Homo sapiens: one gene and its partners. The protein of the gene in region 3 binds, or shares a complex with, the protein of the main gene of each other region. Each region holds a gene or a part of one and is shown on either strand. Other genes may lie near its edges.

Region 1 (7,800 bases), on a different chromosome or scaffold from region 3:
CCTGCAGAAAGGAGGCGCCTCCTCCCCGCTCCCCGCTTCCCAAGTGGCATCAGAACAGGGTCCAGTGGCACTCCTTTGGGGACCTACGGCTCCCCGGCCCTCACCTGGTGGGAAGCGCGACGCTCCGGAGCGGAAGGCAGAGGCCGAGCGCATCTTCCTCCTCTTCCTCCTCCCACGCCGCAGCCCGGCTCTGCGGCAGCCCCCGCCCCCGCCCAGCTCCCTCCTCCCCCCGCCGCCCCGCCGCGCCTGGAGCCTCCCGCCCGACTTTTGACGTCACGGAGGAGGAGGGGAAGGTTCCACCCGAGCCCGTCCCTTTGTGACGTCACAATGACAACAGAGTGCGGCCGGGAGCGTCGGGGAACCGAGCGCCGCGGGGGGCGGAGGGAGGGAAGAAGGGCTGGGGCGCCGGCGCGCGGCGGGGGAAGAACCGGGGGGCGGAGAGGGGGCGCGCTGACGTCTCGCCGGCTTAACCTGTTGCTCTCGAGACTGCGTCGGAGCCCGCAGGCAGGGCCGCGGGAAGCCGGCCGGGCCGCCGCCGCCATGCTCGGCCGTGTGCGCGGTGGGGGGCGCCCGCTGCAGCTGTGCGCCGCGCGCCCCCTCCCCGGCACGCCCACGCCCCCGCCCCCGCTCCCACCCCCTCCCCGCGCGCTCTCCCCTCCCCGCGCCCCGCAGGCCGCGCCACCCCCGCGCCCCACCCGCCCTCCTGCCCGCCTGCAAGCCGGCCCGGGTAGACCGGTGCCCGCCTCGCGCGCCCGCCTAGAGCCCGGAGTATGCCCCCTATAGGCCGCGCGCGCGCGCCCGCCCGCCCAGCCCCGGCCCAGCCTGCCGCGACCCCCGCGGGCCGTCCCTTTCGCAGCCGGCTCGAGGACGTCGGGAACACCGGCTCTGCTCCCGGTGCATTAACTCGTGCCGTGCCTCCCGCAGCCGCCGCCAGCCACGGGCTTGCAGCCGGACGCCCGGACTCGGAGACACGATCCGCTGAACGCCCGCAATAAGAAAGAAAACCCACCCCACGCTGCTCTCCACCTCAACGAGGTCCGGAATGGGAGGCGGGGTGCGGTTCTCGTCCAAGTTCTACCCCATTTGCTTTGTGGCTGCATCCGAAACGGACGTGCCCCGGGAAGGCGTCCACGCTCCAAGACAAGGTTGCCTCAGTGCAGTTTCTACAGCCCGAGTTTAAACTAGTCCTTTGCATTCTACCCAGCCCTCTGCAATGCGGATGTATTTTAATTCTTAAATTCTTTATGGAACAGCTTTCTAAGTTGGGCTTGATTATTTAACCTTGCATTTCTTTCATAGTTGAAGTTGACGTGTCTAGATAAGGATCAGCTCTCTTGAAGAGGCATTCAGCTTTTCCATTAAATATATTTTTTTACAAAACCAGTGCCCCGAAGGTCATCTCTCATTACACACACCACAATGATCAAAAAGGGAAAATATTAACACCAATTTGTCTACCCAACTTAAATAAACTTTCCTCTTACGTTGCATTATTCCTAAGGTATGTTCATTTGGCCTTTTTTGAAAAAAAAAAAGAGTTATTTAATTTAAAGCATGCAGCTAATCACAGATCACTCGAGTGCATATTTGGTTAATCCCTCGGTCCCCCTTTCCTCCCTCCCCTCAAACTTAAAAAAAAAAAAAAGCCACCACACACAAAACAAAAACACTCCCCATGCCAATCAAAACGTAGCTGTACTATGCACAAAACAAATTTAACTATTCCAAGCCATTTAAATCTAGGAATAATCACCCAATTTCAGAAGCCCAGTTAACAGGGAGAAATTATTTGTAGTTACTTACATATGCATTCACGTACACACTTAAAAACATTAGCCATAGTGTGTGTCCTTTTCCCCTACAACTGGAAACCATGAATTTTTTAAACAAAACCAGCCTCATTATTAAAGTCAATCCCAACAAATGCATTCGCTGTAACATGATTCCCAACTGGTTTATGTTGCAAACCAGATAAGCCAAAACGACCACAGACATTAAATTTGATGTGCCAGTGCAAAGAGAAGATCGCCATAATCGGACCCTCGATCGCAACTTAAAGGGCTTCCAACACACATGCGTTACACGATTTTTCCAAATAACATTAATAATAATAACACAGGCTCATTTGCATGCAAAGTGCAATACGGGGCCAAATCCGCTTGAGAATGCAGTTTAGTTACATTACCGCAGCCACCCCCCACCTCAAGCTCCACCAAAATCCCTTGCCTTTCATCTAAAAGTAGATTATGGTTGTGTCATTCGAGGTCAATTTATTCACTTGAGGTATCTCTACACCAGTCTGTTTTTTCAACCAAACTAGGCAGACACCACTTTGCTTGAAAAGCCCTCTTTCAGAAAAAAAAGAAACAGCCTTATCGGACGCTGTGTTTAAAACCCTTCAGAGGCAGAATTATCTATAAACTTGACATTCACAGCCATTGCTTAAAACTGCAAGTCAAAGGATGTGTTGTTAGGAGCACTTACGTATTTCTTCTGAATGATATTCCTCTTGGGTCTTTCCTTGCTCATTCTGAGATCCAAATGCTGATTGCAAAAGGGGACAATTGCTTCATGAATTTAAAGCCGTCAGAAATTTGCAAAAAAATATCCTGGTGGTTTTTATTGTTGTTGGTGGTGGTTGATCTTGTAATCCGACTTTTCTTCCTCTTCCCCCAAAGCCAGATTCGCCTTGAAATAAATCCGAAATTGGGAAGGAAAAAAAAAGAGCCAAAGACGAACGAAGCAAACAAAAAAAAATTCACTTTAGTAAAACACTCATAATGGAAAATTTCCCCCGAAACACATACACACACACACAAAAAAAAACCGACGCCCTTCACTCCCCCCCCTTTTTCCTCCAAAAACTACATCAGCGAAACGTGAAGGTCCTTAGTGTCTGATCCGTAGTTACATCTTGGAAAAGAAAAGGGAAAGATAAATAAAAAATGTTGGAAGTCACGTTTGTGCTGCAGCAGCAGTGCGAGCAGAAGAGTCAACTCCAGCGGCGGCGGCGGCGGCGGCGGCAGCACCACAGCGAGGGCTCGCCGAGTCTCTTTTTTCCAAGCCCCCTAACCAATGAGAGAGAGGCTATCCAGCCCAACTTTAAATGGACTCTGCTTTTATACAAGTTAGGGCTCCTCGGATAATTCCCCGCCGGGCGCCAGCCGAAAACTCCCACCGCTCAGCCGCCAGGCGCCCGCTTAGCCTGGTGCCGACCGCCCCTGGCCCAGTCCAGGGCACCCCCGCAGCCTGGCCAACCAGACACCCGAGCGACCTCGACGAACCCCTCCCAGGCAAGCCCTCGGGCGTCGCTCCCACGCCGAGCCCAGGCGTGGAATTGAGAGAGGCTCCCTAGCTCAATGCATGGCACGCTCCGTCGCTCCACCTCACCCCCTTTCCCCTGCCTGCCGCTCACCCCACGGCCGCCCCACGCCAGCCCCCGCCACTGCCTTCGCGTCTACCTGCAGCCGGGCTGCTGGGTAGGAGTGCCCCAGGACGCCCGGCCCCGGGGAGAGCCGCCTATTCCCGGGGCACCTTAGAATGGTCCCCTTGATCTTCTGGAAGTTGTAGTCCCCCGACTACAAAATGGCTATGGCCACGGAAGCTGGGAACTACAATTCCCAGCCTGCCCCGCAAAGCCTGTCACTCAACTCCCCTCCCTCCTCCTCGCCCCCTCCCCCTCACTGGCCGTGCCAACAAACGCTTGGACGTGTCCCGCGTGCGACACTGCTAGAGGCTGGCTCGGGATTGGCCCGCGGAGCGTGTGGTCCGCGAGCGAGGAACTCCCCACGCCGGCCCTCCTCCGCCCCCCGGGCCCCGGCCCCCCTCCCCTGGCGGCCGCCAGCCCCCTCCCCGCGCGCCCCGCCCCCACCCGCGGCGCGAACCGCCTGTGGAATCGAGGAATCGCGCGCGTGCGGCCCGGAGCCGCGGGGGAGGGACGCGAGGCTTCCCCGGGGAAGGCCTCGGAGCGTGGCGGTGAGGGGGGCGGTGTCAGGGAGGGGTTGGAGCCCGTCCTAAGGAAAACTGGGCCACGCACCAAGAGGAATCCTCGGTGCGAACTAGTTGATCGGCGGCGCCTGCTGCTTGTGCCGTGCAGCCGGTGTCACCTCAGGACAGCGCCTCGCGTCTGTGTACAGAGCGTGCTGCGGGCGCCTAGGGTAGTCCGAGGTCACCCCTCTCCGCGCCCCGCAGTCGCGCACGCCCCCACGCGCGGGGTGGGCGGTGGCCGGGGGTCGCCGAGTGGAAAGGCCACGCCCCCCCACGCCCGGGCTCGGCACGCTGCCCCTGGGTCGCGAACGCGCCTCCGCTCGACCCGCTTGGAGGACGTCGCTGGTGGCCCAGGAGTGAAGCCCCGGCGGCTGCCTCCTGAGAAAAGATAGCCGTGTTTAAAGAGACTGAACGGGATCTTTGCTTTGCCGGGCGTATTTTGTGATAAAATACCACAAAATGTTGAGACAAAAATGAGTGGAATATGGAGACCGAGCCGCACAGACACGCAATTGTAAGGAAACATCTCGAACACCGAGTGCCAGGAATATCAACTGTCCGGGCCACGCAAGAGCCTGCTTTTTACCTGCCTCCAGCCCCCTGTCGTGCTGGTTTAATCGCTGAAACAAATGAAGTAGCAGGCCCTGGCATAGCGCTTTGGGCCTTCGCCTTATTAACAACTTTGTCAAGTCTCGCATCGCGATTCTGCCTTGTTAATTTCCTTGTTTTTCGCTGTGGTTTTGGAGAAGCAATGTTTTCCATGATCTCTCAGGCTAGCCTCGGAATAAAACGTGGCAGAAGCGCTCCCGCGAACACATACCCATATATTTTATTCTACCTATTCCCTAGAGTCTGCTAACTTCAAAAGTCTAGATACTCACACAGCTGTTTACTTGCAGCAGTATTTGAAGAGATAACCTTGGTGTCTAGAAAGGTCTCAGAAACTGGAGGTAAGAGACCTGGATTCAAATCGCGCCTTGGCCACTTCCCAAAAGGCAACCGAGAGCCTCTCTGAGCTTGTCAGTTTCCGCATCTGCAAATTAGTGGTGATCAAACCTGTGGGGATGATTATGTGATAAATAACAGTAACCTAGTTTAAAACTAGGCACGTTATTGGAAGCTTTCAGTAAACGAAATAAAAAGCCTTTTCGAGAGGGTATTTTCCTTATTATTTTTACCTTTTCAAAAAATCTGAAATGAAATAATTTTATCTAATGTTCACTTCACAATTGGAAAAATAAATGATCTTTTGTGCCCTGAATACTGCAAAACTTGTACGCTGGTGCCATTTCCTGGGAAGGATCCAATGGGGCAGACTACAGTAGGGCCACCCAAGGTGTTTTCTAAAAACTTTCTGATCATTAGGACTGGCATACTGGGAATCTCCACGTCTCCACGTTGTTAAGATTTTAACCAGCTTTCTGTAAGTTTAACGCAGATACCTCATTCCCTAGGCAAATATTAATGAACAAAGGTGAGTTTCTTTTCTGTTCCCCTAACTAGCCCTGGGGCCTGGACTTCTCAGTCCTGGGCTTGCGAACTCCCCTGCCAGGCTACCAGCTCCAGGTCACCTGGTGTGAAAAACTATTGTGTAAAGTTGAGGCCTCAGGGCAGAGGGGAAAGGAAGGAATTTGCTCATTTCCAAAAGATTTGAATAATATTAGTGTTGTTTTCCCTGAAAGAGAAAAAAGGTTGGCCTTCTTAGTGGTTGAAAGATTTTCCTGTTGTGAAAGTAACCTACTCCTAATGAACTTCCTTCCCCTACCATCTTGGCAAGACCATCCAAGGCTTTTCTTGCTCCTTCCTCCTCTTTTTCATTTTCTGTAAGTCAAATGCAGCTTTTCTTATGATGATTTTCACATCTCAAAGCCTTGACCTCTTCAATTGGAGGGGCAGGGATGAGAACATGTCTAGGTACATTGATTGTATTAGACTCTATGCCAGCACTGTCCTCATCCCTGAGGACACAGGAAGCTCACAGCTCAGTAAAAAAAAAAAAAAAAAAAAGGCAGAGTTTACAATGGATTGTGATACCTCCAAAAAGTACTATATCAGCAATGTAGAAAAGAAGCTAAAAAGAACACATTGCTGAGATGACTAGGTGTTAAGGAGTTTTGAAGTAGGTGTAGGGGTTCACATACATACTTAAAGAAGTGCATATTTCACCCCTTTGCATTGCATCCTATTTGTTTACATTCTCCACTTTTAATGTTTCTAGTTCTTCTCTCCAAGTAAAAAGGAAATTCCCTAAAGAGATGATGTTGTCTACTTCTCATACCCTCCAAAGCTCCAAAAACTTCATCAAATTTGAAAGATGTCCAGTAAATGCTTACTGTTGAATATTTCACCAAAACTATAATGCCCAACTATTTAGACTATTGCCCAACATTTAGTCTCCTACCATCATCTTCCATTCCATTCTGGAACTCTGCTAGTTTTCCTCTTGCATTATCTAAATCCAATGTAGTGTTATACGTTCTTCAAGGCCCCAAATTCAGGCCCATTTCCAATCCAGCCTCGCTGCTTGGCCTACTCATTCCTGGATTCTCATTGCCCTTCCTATTTTGGCAATAATTTTTGAGCTTTAAAATTTTATTCTGAGGCCGAATGTGGTGACTCACATCTGTAATCCCAGCACTTTGGAAGGCCGAGGCAAAAGGATCACTTGAGCTCTGGAGTTTGAGACCAGCCTGGGTAACATGGTGAAACCCTATCTCTACCAAAAAAAAAAAAAAAATTAGCTGGACGTGGTGGCCCAGGCATGGTAGTGTGCACCTGTAGTCCCAGTTACTTGGGAGGCTTAGGTGGGAGGATGGCTTGAGCGGGAGGCTGAGGTTGCAGTGAGCTGACATTGCACCATTACACTCCAACCTGGGTGACAGAGAAAGACCCTGTCAAAAACAAACAAAAAAAAATTGTTCTCTGTTGTATTTTTTTCTGATTATGTCATGTAAGTATCTTGTATCTCTTAATTGAAAATTGGATGGGGCCATGATTTGTCTCATATTGAGGCAGCCATTGGCAATGAGGGAATCAGATGTTTCTAATATTAAGTCTCTGAGTGACCATATGCCATTCACCTGCCTCATATAGGCCTTGGGTCTGTCATTTATAAAATGAGCAGGTTAGGCTGGGTGTGGTGGTTCACACCTCTAATCCTAGCACTTTGGAAAGCCAAAGCGGAAGGATTGCTTGAGCCCAAGAGCTCAAGACCAGCCTGGGTAACATAGCCAGACACCATCTCTACAAACATAAAATTAAAAATTAGAGGGTTAAATTCAGTTATTTCCCAAAGACATTTCTACACCCAACATTCTCTAGTCCTACCTTTACCTTTGTATTATGCTGCTTTTCCCCCTCAGTGCTGGCCCCTAAGTAAACTCAAATCCACAATCATTCAGTAAAAGTTGCTAGGTTAAGTTTCTTTACACTTGTATGTTATTAATTTCCAAAAAGACCTCATATTTATCCGAGCTATCTAATGATAGCTTTCATTTGTATAACTTTAATAGTGTTTAAAGCACACTGTCATAATAATTTCATTTAAACCATAAAACAACTTAGATCAAGACAGGTATTACTGTCCTCACTCTTCAAATGTGAAAATGAAATATTAAGAGGTTGTGATTTGCTCAAAGTCATACAACCAGTTGAGTGGATGAGCCAAGGGTCAAACTCAGGACTCTCGGCTCCACATACCCAGTGCAGGCCACCTCCCTGGTTTTCCAAAATGGGATTCAAGACATATGATTCCATGAAATGTTACTAGGTGGGACTGAAAAGAAAATAATTCTTCGATGAAATAAATTTGCA
Region 2 (7,668 bases), on a different chromosome or scaffold from region 3:
TTGCCCTTATCTTTTCTAAACTCATTTTTATACAATGTTCTCTACTCCCTTACCTTACTACTGCCCCTAAGTCAGGGGTACATGGATGAAATTCAGAAGGCTTGTGAACTCAAATGGGGAAAAAAAATTGCATCTTAATTTTTGCCACCTTTAAAATTTAGCACTTCCTTCTATTATTATCTAGGTAACACATGCTTAATGTTACTGAAGTTGTGACTCTGCCACCAATGGAAATCAAGTATTTTTATATTACACTTCGAAAAAGTGTTTATACCCATCACTACTATCAGACCCGCTGCTAGATCTTGTTACTTAATGTGCTAATAAAGTACATATAGTATAGGACTACATCTAAAATTTGTTTTAGAAATATTTTATAACATGGTGTACAATTTTATAATTGAATTTGTTTGTAACCTCATATCCTGTATTTCATACATCTAAAAATGTTATTTTGAGAAGACTCTACAAGATTAAGGCTTCCAAGGCATGCGCACGCACACACACAAAATTAAGGCTATCCAAATGGAGGAACCAAAACAAAACTAATCCAATCATTTGGTCTTGAACAGCTTTAAAATTGCAGCAAAGAATATGTTTTCCTGTAAGGGTCTGCAAGAAGAAAATAAGCTTTATTTTGTCCTTTGCAAGTTTCTTCATTCTAAACAGGTCTGACAGTTTCATTATATTTTGCCTGATTATTAAGTATGTGGAAGAGCCAGAAACATTATTCTATGTAATCATAAAATTAGTAGTAGTAATTATTATAAATAAATAACATGTGTATAGTACTTACTATGGGGCAGACACTCTTCTTAGTACTTTAGCTATATTAACTCATTTAATGCTTACAAATACTCTATGAGGTAAATACCATACACCACCATCCTCATTTTTAAGAAACTAAGACAATTATGTCAGTCTCTTGCTCGAGGTCAAGCTAATAGAACAGAAATTTTAACCTATCACTTGGATCCAGCATCTGTGCTCTTAATACTCTAATCTGCCTAGAGAAATTTAAGAAAACGCAGAAATAAAATGAACGGTCTTCAAATAATAAAAAGAAGAGGGTAAAAAATGTTAGATCCCAATGTACAGTGAGATTGGGGCGCACAATCGGGTGAAAAATACAAAAGTAACACTTAACACCCAAGCTTTTCTGAAATTTGAAGTCTAAGATCCCACAAACTGACAATCCCAAGAATATCTATCTTGTCTCTGCAAAAAGAATCCTTTCCCATCTTTTCCGTGAAAATCTTAGTCATGACATCATTATATGTTTCAGCTAGGAATTATGACAGAATTTAGAAACTGCGTGTAGAAGATGTAACATTTATTCCTAAAACTAGCCAAACTGAGAAAATGAAGAACTTACGCCACTCTTCTGAAACATTTTAAGGATTTTTTAAAAGATATTCACAAGTTGTTATATATCATGAGAAGGAGAATCACATTTTGGAGTAGTATCTTTGAATAAATTGTCAAGATACTTCGTTGACCTTACTGGTTATCAACCTAAAACATGAAACTGAAAACTTATTTATGTCAATTCGGCTCTTACTGGCGAGTCAATTAAAACTCAGTTGGGTTAAATGTTGGTACCGAATGATTACGAATACCCATTTCAGAGCTTAAAAAAATCTGATTGCAAAACATCGCGCACTTGGCGAAGCCAGGAACCCACACTTAAATACATCTGCCTATACCACTGTTGCCCAAAATCTTCCAGGTCGCCACCCCCCTCACCTTTATCTTAAGTAAAAACGTTCAAAGAAGAAATCACCCACTCTTACTTCCTCAAAGGTAGTCACTCCCCACCCCCAAATCAAAAATCGATCCTCTCAATTCGGCTCCTCCTACAGAAAAGGCGACCTTCAGGCGCACCCGGTCTCCGCGGACAGGACGGAGGCGGACACAAAACCCCCTTTAATAAAGTCTCCCAAACTCCGCAAATCGAAGATCACTTTCCATCCTGAAAATTCCACAAGGGTCTTAGAGTGACAACCCTTACGCTCCTTTAACAGGGTCCCTAACTCTGCCCCGTCCTTCCAACTTTCTTAGAAAAGTCTCTAACGTGCCTTTTAAACTACTAGAATCTCAGACCCGCACTCTCCCCTTAAATCCCCCCAAAGGCCAAAACACTCCCCATCACATGCAAACTGATTTCAGGGCAGACTTCTCAGACCCACGCAATCACTAGAACCACTCTCCTTTGCCTAGTTCCTGCTTGCTCTCGGCCCCACATCAAAATCCCCGTAGGCAATTTCAATTTTCTCCCGCACGCCCGCGTTTTCCTGAGTGACACCTCTCCCTCCCCCCACAGCAGCCCGCTCGTCCCCGCGCCCCCCGTTTTAAAAGAATTTAAAACTTTCACTCCGCAGTCTCGTAACTGCCAGAAGCTGCACTTACATTCTCGTCTCCAGAGAGGTCTGGATTGCTGTTCTCGTCACTGCTCAGCTTCTGCTTCTTGGCCGCAGGCATGTCTGTTCCCGCCGGCGCAGTCGACACTTCCCTCTCGGACATATTCCTCCGCCTCCCTCCAGGTTCCTGCCGCCTGGGGCGGGGCCTCCGCCACACCGCCGTCAAGCAAGCCCGGCCCGAGCTTGCCGCAAAGTTGCCGCTGCCGCCGCCACCTCCACCGCCCCCCCCACTGTCGCAAATCGCGCCCAGCCGCCGAGGCGGGCGTGCGTGCGACCCCGCCACACTGCTGAAAAAGGGGCGCGCGCGCGCGCCCTCCCGCGCGGCTTCCTGGCTCCTTCCCTTCCCCAACTCCCGTCTTGCCCTTTTCCCGCCGCCCTCCCGGCAGTCTACACGATGTAAGGTCCGTTGGATTAAGAGGGCAGTATTAAGTATGTCTCCCTTCCCACCACCGCCTCGAGAAGAGGCGAAACTCAAAGGGATGCTCCCTCACCCCCTTCCTCCTTCCAAAGACGTTTCAGCCGCAATTGGCCCGTTCCTTCGATCTCCGACCCGCTGCTAGGGAGCGAAAGTCTGTGGAATGGGCTACACCACCAATGTCCCAGGAAACGGGGGAAGATACAAGACGTCACCTCTTGCTTTAGCTGTGCATGCCACGTTTCCTTAATCTTGAACTTGGAGGACAGCGCTTCCTGACTATTCACGGAACTATTCATAACCTAATTCTTCCTTGAAGATAGAAATGCAAAAACAGTAACCTGCTTCCCCCTGGCTTCCCCCATCTGGCGAATGGAAAGTACCCGTCAGGGGATGCGCAGGCGCCGTGGCGTACTCTTGCGCTGGGTTCGTCGAAACCCGCCTCCTCCAAGCCCCTCCTCTGTTTGAATTCTCGTTTGCTGAACCAGGTAGTTTTCTACCCGGTTTCCGAATCCCAGGGTGGATTTCAAAGCGCTACCGAATTATACTCTAGACGCTTCGTAAATTCTTGTCGGATATTTATTCTGTTGACTATTTATTGTAATGAATGATTATCCTTCCAGTTGCTACCAATAGTGGTTAAGACTTAAATAGAAATATCCTAACATTATGAGACTAGACTCCAATGAGTTACAGCCAAAGTGCTCTTTTTAGCTGCTAAAGGATAGGCCCTGAACTACGCCAAGGCCTAAGAATCAGTGCTCATCTCCATTATGAGATTGTGATACTTAACCGACAATGTTTTGCTTGTTTTTGCACATCAGATACAATGAAATTCTAGAAGGCAACACAACTGTTAAACTTCACCAAAATATTTGCCTCTGTTACTATATCTATTCTCTAGCAGGTGCCAGATAACATTGGTGAGCCTTGTGGAATTATTATATGGGTCATGAAACCATAACTGAATGAGCAGCAGGAAAAGGAGAGTGATGACGAAAAATAAAATACGGCATCCGCCACCTTTTTTTTGTTTTTCTTAGAACATGATTGTGACTACTTATCTATTCGGGCTTCTGTAAAAATGTCCTCATCTGTAAAAATGAGGAGGCAGGAAGGGAGAAAGGGACCTACCATTTCTTGGGCACCTGCTTGATGTTGTATATCTTTTCTCTTCTAGACCTCATTACCCACCTAGAGTGCACCATCCATAAAATTCTAGTATACTTGAATTATTTCTGCATGATAACTTTATAACCAGGACATCAGTTTCCTTATCTGCAGATTGCAAGTCACTCTTTCTTTTGTAGATAAAGAGAGAACTCTTGGTTGAGAATGAGAAAAGGAAGTAAAGCAAAGGCAGGTCAGAATGAGAGGTTTCTGCAGTGAAGACTTTGAAATAAAGAAGCCGAAAAAAAATTAAAGTTGAGGTCTCAATGACGGCAGTCATTTGTTCAGTACTTCCAATGTTCCAGGCACTACTAAGCACTCCTCAGTTGGTGAGAAGAGATGAGACTGGAGTAGAGTAAGCTCCTGACAAAGTAAGACGTGCTTTGGCATGACATTTTCATCAGCAGACAGAAACATCCTTCCCTTTGTTAAGAACATCTTTCCCAACAAAGGGAAGGACGTTTCTGAAATATAGTTCTACAAGTAAAGGATAATTGACTAAAGCATTTCAAATTAAAATTACTCCGTGTGTGAGAGATTAGTGGGAGCTGGGAAGTGGGAGTCAACGTCTAGTCATAAAATTAGAAAAGTGCTGAACATTTGGATAAAGGACACATATGGTAGAAAAATGCCTTACAGCATTCATATTATCTGTAACAAAGCAAAAATAGTTTAAAGAGGCTTATTAAAACTTGAAGGGGTTATTTTTAAAATGTTTCTGATGAATCAGGGGTGATAAATGGAAATTAGTTTATATTACTACGTTATTGTCACTACATTAAAGGAAAAATATTCTGACACTTGTTAAAATAGTAAGGAACACTTAATTCAGGACTATTTTGATAGCTGTCAAGACTATCACAATAGGAGAGAGATCAGGCTCAACTCCAAATTACAGCAAGGAGTGGGGATGTATAGTCAAGGAGCAAAGTTGGAGGGGTTGGTGGTTGGAAAATTACTAAGAAGAGACATCAAGAATGGGGAAACTTTTGCTACACCAACTTAACAGAATTTGTGCTAAAAAAGGCCGGGGTGATCAGATATCCAGGGTATGGGTTTTTCTCTAAACTGATGCAGAATTCTTGCTACAGCTGAGCCAGGCAAGCTAGACAGGAAGATGGAGAAGAGGGCTCAGAGGAGAGTCTTTGTTACTAATTTAAGATATGTAAAATGTCATAGGTGTTCCATGCAGAGTACTACTTTTGTGGTATTAATTTAATAACCATAAAAGTCTAATTACCTATTAAAAATAAGTTTTGCTGAGTGCATTGATGTGTACCTGTAGTTCCAGCTACTCAAGAGACTAAGGCAGGAAGATTGCTTGAGCCCGGGATATCAAAGCCAGGCTGCGCTGCATAAGGAGACCTACTTCTCTAAAAAAGAAAAATTTGTACGTTTCTCAACACTGCATTCTCCTACTGTGAAAGATCTCAGGAACCATCACAGTTGGAGAGGTCTTACTACCCACATTTTACAAATGAGGAAACTAAGACTTAGGATAAGTAAACAGTATGCCCAAAGACACACAGCTGTTCAAGTGGCAGTACTAGAGATTGTGTTCAATTGATTGGAAAGCCAAAGCACTTTTACCTCAAGATGAGGGACCCAGGCAGCTCTAAATTTATGTAATTCTATGCACAGAGCTTGGTCTTTAGACCACAGAATTGTTTATAAAGTATCAAAGAACTTTAAAAAGCTATCTCACTTGGGACAGAAAGAAGATACAACTGGGAAAACAAACAAAGAATCTATAGCATAGTTTATAGTAATGTACGGATTTCAGTCTTTACTTAATTTTGACCAATGTAACATGGTAATGTAAGATGTTAATAATGAGGGAAACTGGATGAGGGGAATACAGGAACTCTCTATGCTATCTTTGTTCTTAGTAAATTTTCTGTAAAAGTATTCCAAAATAAAAACTTACTTTAAAATATCTATCTCATACTTGGCTGTTGAGAATTCAGTAAGAAATACCCCTTAGCCTTCAAGTAAGTGGTTGATCCATCTTGGAACTTTCCAAGATCATTTACTTATATAGAAAAAGAAAATTCACAGCGTTCCTTGGCATTGTCTCCTGGTATCTTGTAAGCTTCATATCAGGAAATGAGTTTCAAAAGCTAAATTAAATCCTTCCCATTTCAACTGGAGTCTATTTCTCATTCATTCAACATTTTTGTCTCTTCTGCTTCATAAATAGCAGCTGTTCATCATCATTCATGCAATGTGTAATCATATGCTTGCAGATCTGGTTTTCTATGAACAGAACATCATATGGCTTATTTGAACGTTTTCAAATCAATCAGGAAGAATTTACTGAATGCCATTTACATGCAAAGCAGTAGGATAATTCCAGGGGCAATGGGGAGGAGGGGACAATAAAAAAGAAAATAAGACACAGTCTCTACCTTCAAACAGCCTAATATTCATCCAGCGTTAAGAAATAACGAATGGGGCCGGGCGTGGTGGTTCATGCCTGTAATCCCAGCACTTTGAGAGGCCGAGGCAGGTGGATCACCTGAGGTCAAGAGTTCGAGACTAGTCTGGCTAACATGGCGAAACCCCGTCTCTACTAAAAATACAAAAATTAGCCTGACGTGGTGGCTGGAGCCTGTAATCCCTGCTACTCGGGAGGCTGAGGTGAGAGAATAGCTTGAAACCGGGAGGTTGAGGTTTGCAGTGAGCTGAGATCACACCATTGCACTCCAGCCTGGGTGACAAGAGTGAAACTCTGTCTTAAAAAAAAAAAAAAGAAAAATAACGAATAGATTTAATATATATTTACTGAGTACCTACTGTGTGCCCAACACTGTTCCAGGTGCTGAGGAAACTTGACAATAAGCAAAACCAGACAATTTCCTGCTGTCATCATGCTTATTGACAAGTAGGAGAAACAAGCATTAACCAAATAAATGTGAAATTACCGTGGTAAGTGGTATGAAGGGGAAGTACAAGGTCAGGGCTGCTGCTAGCCCATATGGTATCTTTGTGCTATTTTTTAAAAGGCCATAGCAGAAAGAGCCCAGAGTAGGTAAAGCTTGGCAAGCAAACAATGACTTTGGTAAATTAGAAAAGGCACCCCCTTTTCCAGATTGATACAACCCTGCTCCGTGTGCAAGGCTTTGTGAGTGGAGCACAAATTTGATTTTAGTTTTAGTTGTCACCTCAGCTGGGAACCCTTGTTTAGATGAACAAGCTGCACAGGCATACACAGCAGCTGGACAAAGTTTCCATGGACGTGTGTAATAAAGTGAGACATGGGAGGGTTTCCCTGAGAAACAGACAGAAGAGTAGAACTAAAAGAAGAATGGGAGTTAACCAGTCTCCCATTAAGAAGAGAAGGAGAAACATTCTAGGGAGTGATAACAGCATGTGCAAAAGTCCTGGCGCAGGAATATGAGAAGAGTACAAACGCCATTGGTACACTGAAAGGTCAGTGCTGGTGAAGGACTGAAAAGAGAAGGTGACAAAAGTGTGGTAACAGAGAAGGCTAGAAAAGAAGGTAAGGGGCCAGATCGTGGAGGATCTTATAGACCTTCTTAAGACAAGTCTATTAACATGTATCTCCTGTTGATAAGACTTATACAGAAGGAATTAGAATGGCATTATTTTAACTCTGTTTGTATTTATTTCACTTATATACAGTGAAATGCACAGATCTCA
Region 3 (7,019 bases):
CCAATGGCTGAAGCAACAAATGGATGACTTACTACGAATTTTTAAAACTACCAAATCAATTTAAACTAGATGAGGAGTTAGAACAAGAGCAAGGAGGTAACAATATAATGATAATTCTAAAAATCTACTTCAAGTTTTTCTATTTTAAGATAACTAAACCACTAATATGTCACACACAAAAACAAAACTTAACATTTCCAGACCAATGTATTACATCACTCAACACATTATTAGCTGCAGCAAAAACAAGTAGAGCAAACACTTAGGAGGAGGTGAGGTACAGCTGCTTGGGCAAGCTTAAAAAGACGTTATCATTGGTGAACGAGGAGGAATAAATCTGTCAATGGTAGGCACAGGAACTCAAAACAACAAAGCAATGTGGGGCCGTTGAGTACAGGGGAAAACGATTTTACAATGGGTCAAAGCCCCTAAAGAAATTACCATGCCATAGACAGACGTACTAAAATACAATATAGGAAAAACCAAACTATAATAAGCAAACTACTCTAGGAAAATTAGGAAGTATTAAATACATTTTCAAAATATGTGCCTCAAAAGTAGTTGACGCTTTTAAACTGTGCTTAGAAGTTTCAATTACCAGGAAAATTTACTAAGAAACCACATTCCCTAGAAATGCCAGAGGAAAAAAGTATTTTTGTATATACCATACTTACATTTTCACTAAGAACATTTTACGTTTTACTTGTATTCAAATGCAGGTATTTTTAAAAAACAACTTACCCAGAGGGCAAAAAAATAAAATAAAATAAAATAAAATTACATTAAATCGACAAGCACTTACCTGAACATTTTTTTGGCCAATTTCTTATTTAACACAATTTATTCATCAATATCAGCAATGTTGCTCTGGGCTACCAGTTCATAATAATAGTTTTATTGTAAAACAACTGCTTAGTTAGCACTTACGGGGGAAAAAAAAAAAAATCACTGACCTGAATTCCATGTTAGTGGAAAATAGTAGTCCAAATGAAATACATGCAAAAGATTTCAGAGCAATCCTCAAGCAACAAAGTAAAAATAATAATACTGAGATCTAAAGATATTTGTCAAAGTAACTACAAGATTAAATGATAAATTCTAGTTGTAATAAATGATAGCACTCTCCAAGCTGCTTTAAAACATAATTCCACAACAAAGATAGAAAATGAAAACGTACAATAATTGCACTTACGATGTAGGAAGCAGTCATATTTAAAACATCGCCTACAGAAAAGCGTATGAAAGGAGTGTAAGCTTTGCTCTCTCTGAACAGATTTAGCATTTGGTCCATCTATGTTGGGGGTACATTCAGGAGGAAGTGCGCCTGGGAGCTGCTGTTCGGTGAGTTCTTTATATCTGACATTAACCAAGAAAAATTTAAGTAAACATGAAACAAAAATCACTTTTTTGAAAACAGTTTCTAAAAGGTTTCCATGTGTTACTTTTGATGTTTATCTTGCCTAAAACATAAAGGAATGGCTCTATTTAGATAAAGAGCCAACTAAATATTGTGCATGGTGTTATCAAGAATCAAATTCATCGATATGATTCAAATATATCATGGAAAAGGATATTATATTAGTTTTAACTAAACATCAAATTTCTACCAGTATCCAGATAATTTTCCTGTAAATGTACTACTGTAAATTTTATGTATATGTGTGTGTTTATGTGTATATATAAATTATACATATGTATTTATTCTATCTACAGGAAATATTTTGTAATGCAGAGTACCACAAGTACACATGTTGCTTCAAGTATCTTGCAAACACTGTAAACAAAGTGTAGTGGCTCATCCGCTACATTGATTCCATTTGTAATAAACCAAAATGGTGAGTTACATACCATACAGGGCAAGATTGCCTCAAAGGAACAAATTCTTACTTTTCCTTTAGTTCTTCTGCTGTGCCCTTATCTGGAAACATTGAGGAAATGGCTTCAAAAATTTTATCAGAAGGAAATTTCCGAGGTGGGCGGCTTTCTTTATCTAAACAGGAGAATATGAAAGGAAAAAAAGAATGGAAGTAAACAAGTTTTTGATCTTTCATTTTCTCTACCCAATTATGTCTCTATAACAAAGCTGATTTTCTAAGAAATCATCTCTATTTTGTGTTTTACTTACTTCTCACATACTTTACATGTCTGTGGAATGCCAGTCAGTCAAAAACAAAATTCAAATTCAAATATGAAAAGCTTTAAGAGCACTGGGAAGCAGAAAACCTAGGTTCTACTCCCAGCTCTGCTACTAACTGATTTTGTGACTTAGAGTGATCACTTTACCTCTTGGGTCTGTTTACTCATCTGTAAAATGAAGGAGCTGAACTAGATGATCAATAAGGTCAATAAGGTACCTTTTTGTTATTTTCTCTTTTTTGAAATACGCTTCTTAGAAATTGCTATTTCACCCGCCAAATTATTCTATTCTATGCTGCCTTAGCATGAGCTTTGCCAAGTAGAGAACACCAACTATTGACTCTGTTTCTTCCCAATAGTGTAATCTTATAAGTTACTTAACCTCTCTAAATCTATCCCCTCAAATAGAAAATGGATCTGACAGGTGGGGCGCAGTGGCTCACGCCTGTAATCCTAGCACTTTGGGAGGCCGAGGCAGGTGGATCACGAGGTCAGGAGATAGAGACCATCCTGGCTAACACGGTGAAACCCCGTCTCTACTAAAAAATACAAAAAATTAGCTGGGTGTGGTGGCAGGTGCCTATAGTCCCAGCTACTCGGGAGGCTGAGGCAGGAGAATGGCGTGAACCCAGGAGGCGAAGCTTGCAGTAAGCTGAGATGGGGCCACTGTACTCTAGCCTGGGCGACAGAGCGAGACTCCGTCTCGAAAAAGAAAATGGATCTGATAATAACATCCATCTCATGAAGCCATTATGAGGATTAAGTGAGCTGGTGCATAAGAAGTGATTAGTACACAACTTGTACACGGTGAATATCAATGTTATATATTATAATGATGCCCAGTGAAGCACACAAAAAATTACGTTCTTTGCTAGCCAAAGGAAACAAAGATACTCAAGTGAAGATAATGTTGCAAGTATTATGCTTTTTTTTTTCTTTTTTAAGGCAAGGTCTCACTCTGTCACCCAGCCAGACTGTGCAGTGGCACAATCACAGCTCAATGCAGCCTACACCTCCTGGGCTCAAGCAATCACCCTGTCTCATTTTTTTACTTTTTAGTAGAGATGGGGTCTCACTATGTTGCCCAGGTTGGTCTTGAACTCCTGGGCTCAAGCAATCTGCCCACCTTAGCCTCCCAAGTGCTAGGATTACAGAGTTAGCCACCCTACCTGGCCATAATATGTTAATTTTGATTATACTGCTATCAATGTGATATTTAACAAAGAAAGAAAAAGAGAAAGAAGAAACTAAGCCCTATTTCTACTCTTTCTACTGTTTTTGAAAGAAAGCTGTAATGGCTACACAGAATCCTAATAATCAGGCATACCATCTCGGTGATCCTCCAGATCTTTCTGCTTTTCTTCTCTTTCTTCAGGATCGTCTCCATCATCATCATCGTCATCATCATTATATTGACCAAGGGCATTCACCAACTCCACAAAAATTTCATCATTTATAAACCCACATTCTGAAACGCATCAAATGTCAGAAACACACAGGAGAAGCAATAATGTCAAAAGTTTATGTATCCTTTTTCTACTTGGACAAAACAGGCATAGCCTAGTAACTGGCACTAAAACATTATTATTGAAATGAGGGGAGGAAAAGATAAGATCATTTTCAGGACTGGTGTTAGGCAAAGGAAGCAAACTTATCTTTAATACCTGCTACTTTCTGTAGAATGGCCCCTCCCCAAAACTTTCTAGTAGAAAACTGAATCTTCTAGGAACTGATTGTGGCTTTGGCCTCCTCCCAAACAATGGATCTGTCCTTTAACTGATCATTTCAGACCCTGCTTTCTGCTGATAATGACAATGGATGATGATATTACAAATATTATCCTTTCAGACACTTTAACAGGGCCTCCTGGACACAAAAAACTGAAACCATGACTCTAAGGATTGAATTTCAGGTACTGTAGTCCCTAGAGGAGCGGTATTTTTTAGTAGTAGGGGCTGTTGGAGCCCCTATATGCCACAGAAGCAGAGCCCCAATCCTAATTAATTTTACTACTAAAGAATCTTAAAATCTACATACACTCAAGTTCTATTTAATTTACATGTTATTGCCATTATGTTATAACCAACTATGCATAATTATCAGGTGGCAAACATGATCCTCCTAACTAATTTTCCCAAAAATAGTTAGGGAAAATACTGAAAATCTTAGGCCTGGGCCCAGGTTCAGTCCCTTATAGTTCAGTGCAAAACTTAATTTTAATATTAAAATTTTTCTCATGCCCTATATGCTTCATAAACAAAAGTGTCTCTCAATTCTTTAGCCCCTTTTTCCAAGAGAAGAAGCATATGGCTCACCTCTATCCCCGTGTACTTTCCCATCATAATTTTTTATTAGTTCTTCAATGAAAGTACCATCCTGATCTAAAACTTCATCTCCCATATAAGGAATGTTATGTAAAACAGTTTCATCTTCCACCTAAAAGAAAAAAATATATTTAAAAAGCAGGTTTACTCTAAGTATCAAATGTGAAATAACTAAAATACAACCTTTTTTTCATGTGTACATGTCTTTACCCAGTTCTCCAGATTTAAAATACTAGTCAGAGAGCAAACTCTAAAATTTATCAAAAAATAAAAGACCCCTCTCACCAATAAGCATATCTGAGAAAACTGTTGACAGAAAAAAAATTTAATTCTAGAAAAAATAATGCACTTAGTCTGTCATCAATCATTAAAACTTACCACCATTATTGTACATACCTCTAAGAAAGAAAAAGATGCTCTAGATTATGAGAAGACATCGTCTGTTTTTCTGTTTTTGTTTTTTAATTGAGACGAGTGTCTCACTATGCTGCCCAGGCTGGTCTCGAACTCCTGAGCTCAAGTGATCCACCCGCCTTGGCTCCCAAAGTGCTGGGATAACAGGTGTCTGACACCATGAGCCACCATGCCCAGCCATCATCAGTTTTAACGCGCACTTTAGATGTTAATAGAGGATGATGAAATATGGTGTATCAAGATCAACTATAAAGACCCATACCAAAAAACTACCCTAAGACTCCCAAACTCCACTTGATGATCCAGTTATTAAAACAGCCATTAACTTGTAATAGTTTAAGGTAAAATGAAAAAAAAATGTAAGACATCCAATATAATAAAATTCTAGGGATACAGAGTATTGATAGTCCATTAAAGTTTATGCCAAAAGGATATGTACTTATATGTAAAATAAGAACATTCTACAAAAACATAAAATATTTCAATATTTAGATGAATGAGATGAATATCAAAGTTGACAGTGCTAGTAAAGATGATAGATGAGTTTTTATCAAGCTTTGGAAGACAACAGAGAAGAAAGAAGAATAGCCAATCAAACAAAAGTTAAGACAGAATAGAATAGTTAAGCATACAAGGTAAAGAAAGTTGACATTCATAGGAGGAAGAGCATTTTCAATGAAGAATAAAAATGACAGCAGTTATAGATAAAGACTGGACAGTTCTGAAGTACATGTTTAAAGAGACTAATTCCAAGTGAAGACAAGTCTAAGTCTTAAGAGGCCTTTGAAAAGAGTATTGGTTGAAAACAGAATTTTAGAAAGATAATTATAATAAGCAGAATGGACTGGCTATGCCTGACTGGGAGGACACAGAAGCTCTTTAAAGGGTGAGATGGCGTAGGCTCGGCCCAGCACTATGATCATGGCCCACAGGTAAGAACACGCTGGGAAAGGCCACACACAGGACTAGTAGCAGCCAGGGAATGTGGAAAAAATCTCAAATAATCCCTAGGTAACAAATTTAGGACAACTGGAGAGTTCATAAAGATAACAAGTACCGTAGACAGACAAGGAAAAGAAAAAGTGGGATAAAAGGAGCATATAATTAAAATGCAGGTTTTAATGTATTCATATATTCAAATTCAAGCTTATGTACACACTAGAGGCCTGTTTTCATCTCATTTCACTTGCACTAATCTCATTTAAACTAGGGGTTGATTTCTTTCTATCTAAGCCAAAATCAAGTGACACTTAGATATTTTGTCTTTTCAATCATATCCACATCATCCTGCTCTCCAAAACGTATCTTAGTTACAATAAAGATTGTGTGCCTAATCTGCTTTGGTCAGCAAAATCAGACAGGGTCTGGCTCTGTCACCCAGGCTAGACCAGCAAAATCCATGGGTGATTCATAAATTAATGACAAATTTAAATAATATATTCTTCCAGAATTTCAGTCTGTGAAAACATGAAACTTCCCTCAAGGTCATGCAATGTAATTCTCAAACTACACTCAAATTTATACAACTACAGAAGAGTAACTGAAGTTGAGACTCTACTGTACAAAGTATAAAAGTTACTAAAAACTTCCCCAAAGCAGGTTCACCAAGGACTTCTATCAACATTTTATTAGCCTTCCCACTTTATATATCAATTAAGTAATACAACTATATATTTTTTATTTAGCAATACAAGTCAAGAACACATGCTTCAGTTTCTCTTTAGCATTTTATTACAAAAGCTGCTGCGTCAGAGTTAGCAATGGAACTATGTTTCAGCTCATGTTTCACAAGCCCTATGAATTTTACACCATAATGTACATTATCACAATAAAATGCTACCTAAAGTTGTTTTAAATAATAAGTTCTCAATTAACAAAAACTCAAAGTCAGACTTAGATTACAGGACACTGACTTTTTTAAGGATAAGAACTATAAGCTTCATTCCTTTTGTTTTTTTCAGACAGGGTCTGGCTGTCACCCAAGCTAGAGTACAATGGCACAATCTCAGCTCACTACAACCTCCGCCTCCCTCAAGCCATCCTTCCACCTCAGCCTCCTGAGTAGCTTGGGACTACAGACATGCGCCACACCCAGCTAACTTTTGTTTTGAGGACACAGCGTTTTGCCATATTGCCCAGGTGGAT

What was found.
Region 1: the proteins of EZH2 (region 3) and JARID2 are in contact, whole or in part, in a cryo-EM structure (PDB 8VNZ), measured with the Homo sapiens proteins. Residues at the interface, in NP_001190176.1 of Homo sapiens: Arg78, Ile131, Pro132, Tyr133, Asp136, Ile146, Lys156, Val157, Asp160, Arg161; in NP_004964.2 of Homo sapiens: Arg108, Pro109, Arg110, Leu111, Ala113, Gln114, Arg115, Lys116, Thr154.
Region 2: the proteins of EZH2 (region 3) and EED are in contact, whole or in part, in a cryo-EM structure (PDB 8VMI), measured with the Homo sapiens proteins. Residues at the interface, in NP_001190176.1 of Homo sapiens: Arg34, Glu37, Val38, Lys39, Met41, Phe42, Ser43, Asn45, Arg46, Ile49, Arg52, Thr53, Ile55, Leu56, Asn57, Glu59, Trp60, Lys61, Arg63, Arg64, Ile65, Gln66, Pro67, Val68, His69, Ile70, Leu71, Glu82, Cys83, Ser84; in NP_003788.2 of Homo sapiens: Val85, Asn86, Ser87, Leu88, Lys89, Glu90, Asp91, Trp103, His104, Ser105, Lys106, Glu107, Asp109, Pro110, Val112, Arg120, Thr122, Leu123, Tyr124, Glu125, Gln129, Gly130, Glu131, Ile132, Arg133, Leu134, Leu135, Gln136, Ser137, Tyr138.

The regions. Positions count from the first base shown.
Region 1 is NC_000006.12:15,241,269-15,249,068, reverse strand, and holds the start of JARID2 (protein Jumonji), read right to left. Parts: upstream 3,001-7,800; 5' UTR 2,530-3,000; coding exon 2,485-2,529; intron 1,255-2,484; exon of another isoform or gene 925-1,254; intron 560-924; exon of another isoform or gene 373-559; intron 215-372; exon of another isoform or gene 105-214; intron 1-104.
Region 2 is NC_000011.10:86,240,085-86,247,752, reverse strand, and holds the start of EED (polycomb protein EED), read right to left. Parts: upstream 3,001-7,668; 5' UTR 2,524-3,000; coding exon 2,410-2,523; intron 1-2,409. UniProt on the Homo sapiens protein: Polycomb group (PcG) protein. Component of the PRC2/EED-EZH2 complex, which methylates 'Lys-9' and 'Lys-27' of histone H3, leading to transcriptional repression of the affected target gene.
Region 3 is NC_000007.14:148,825,277-148,832,295, forward strand, and holds part of EZH2 (histone-lysine N-methyltransferase EZH2), read right to left. Parts: intron 4,573-7,019; coding exon 4,452-4,572; intron 3,605-4,451; coding exon 3,464-3,604; intron 1,991-3,463; coding exon 1,888-1,990; intron 1,357-1,887; coding exon 1,178-1,356; intron 1-1,177. UniProt on the Homo sapiens protein: Polycomb group (PcG) protein. Catalytic subunit of the PRC2/EED-EZH2 complex, which methylates 'Lys-9' (H3K9me) and 'Lys-27' (H3K27me) of histone H3, leading to transcriptional repression of the affected target gene.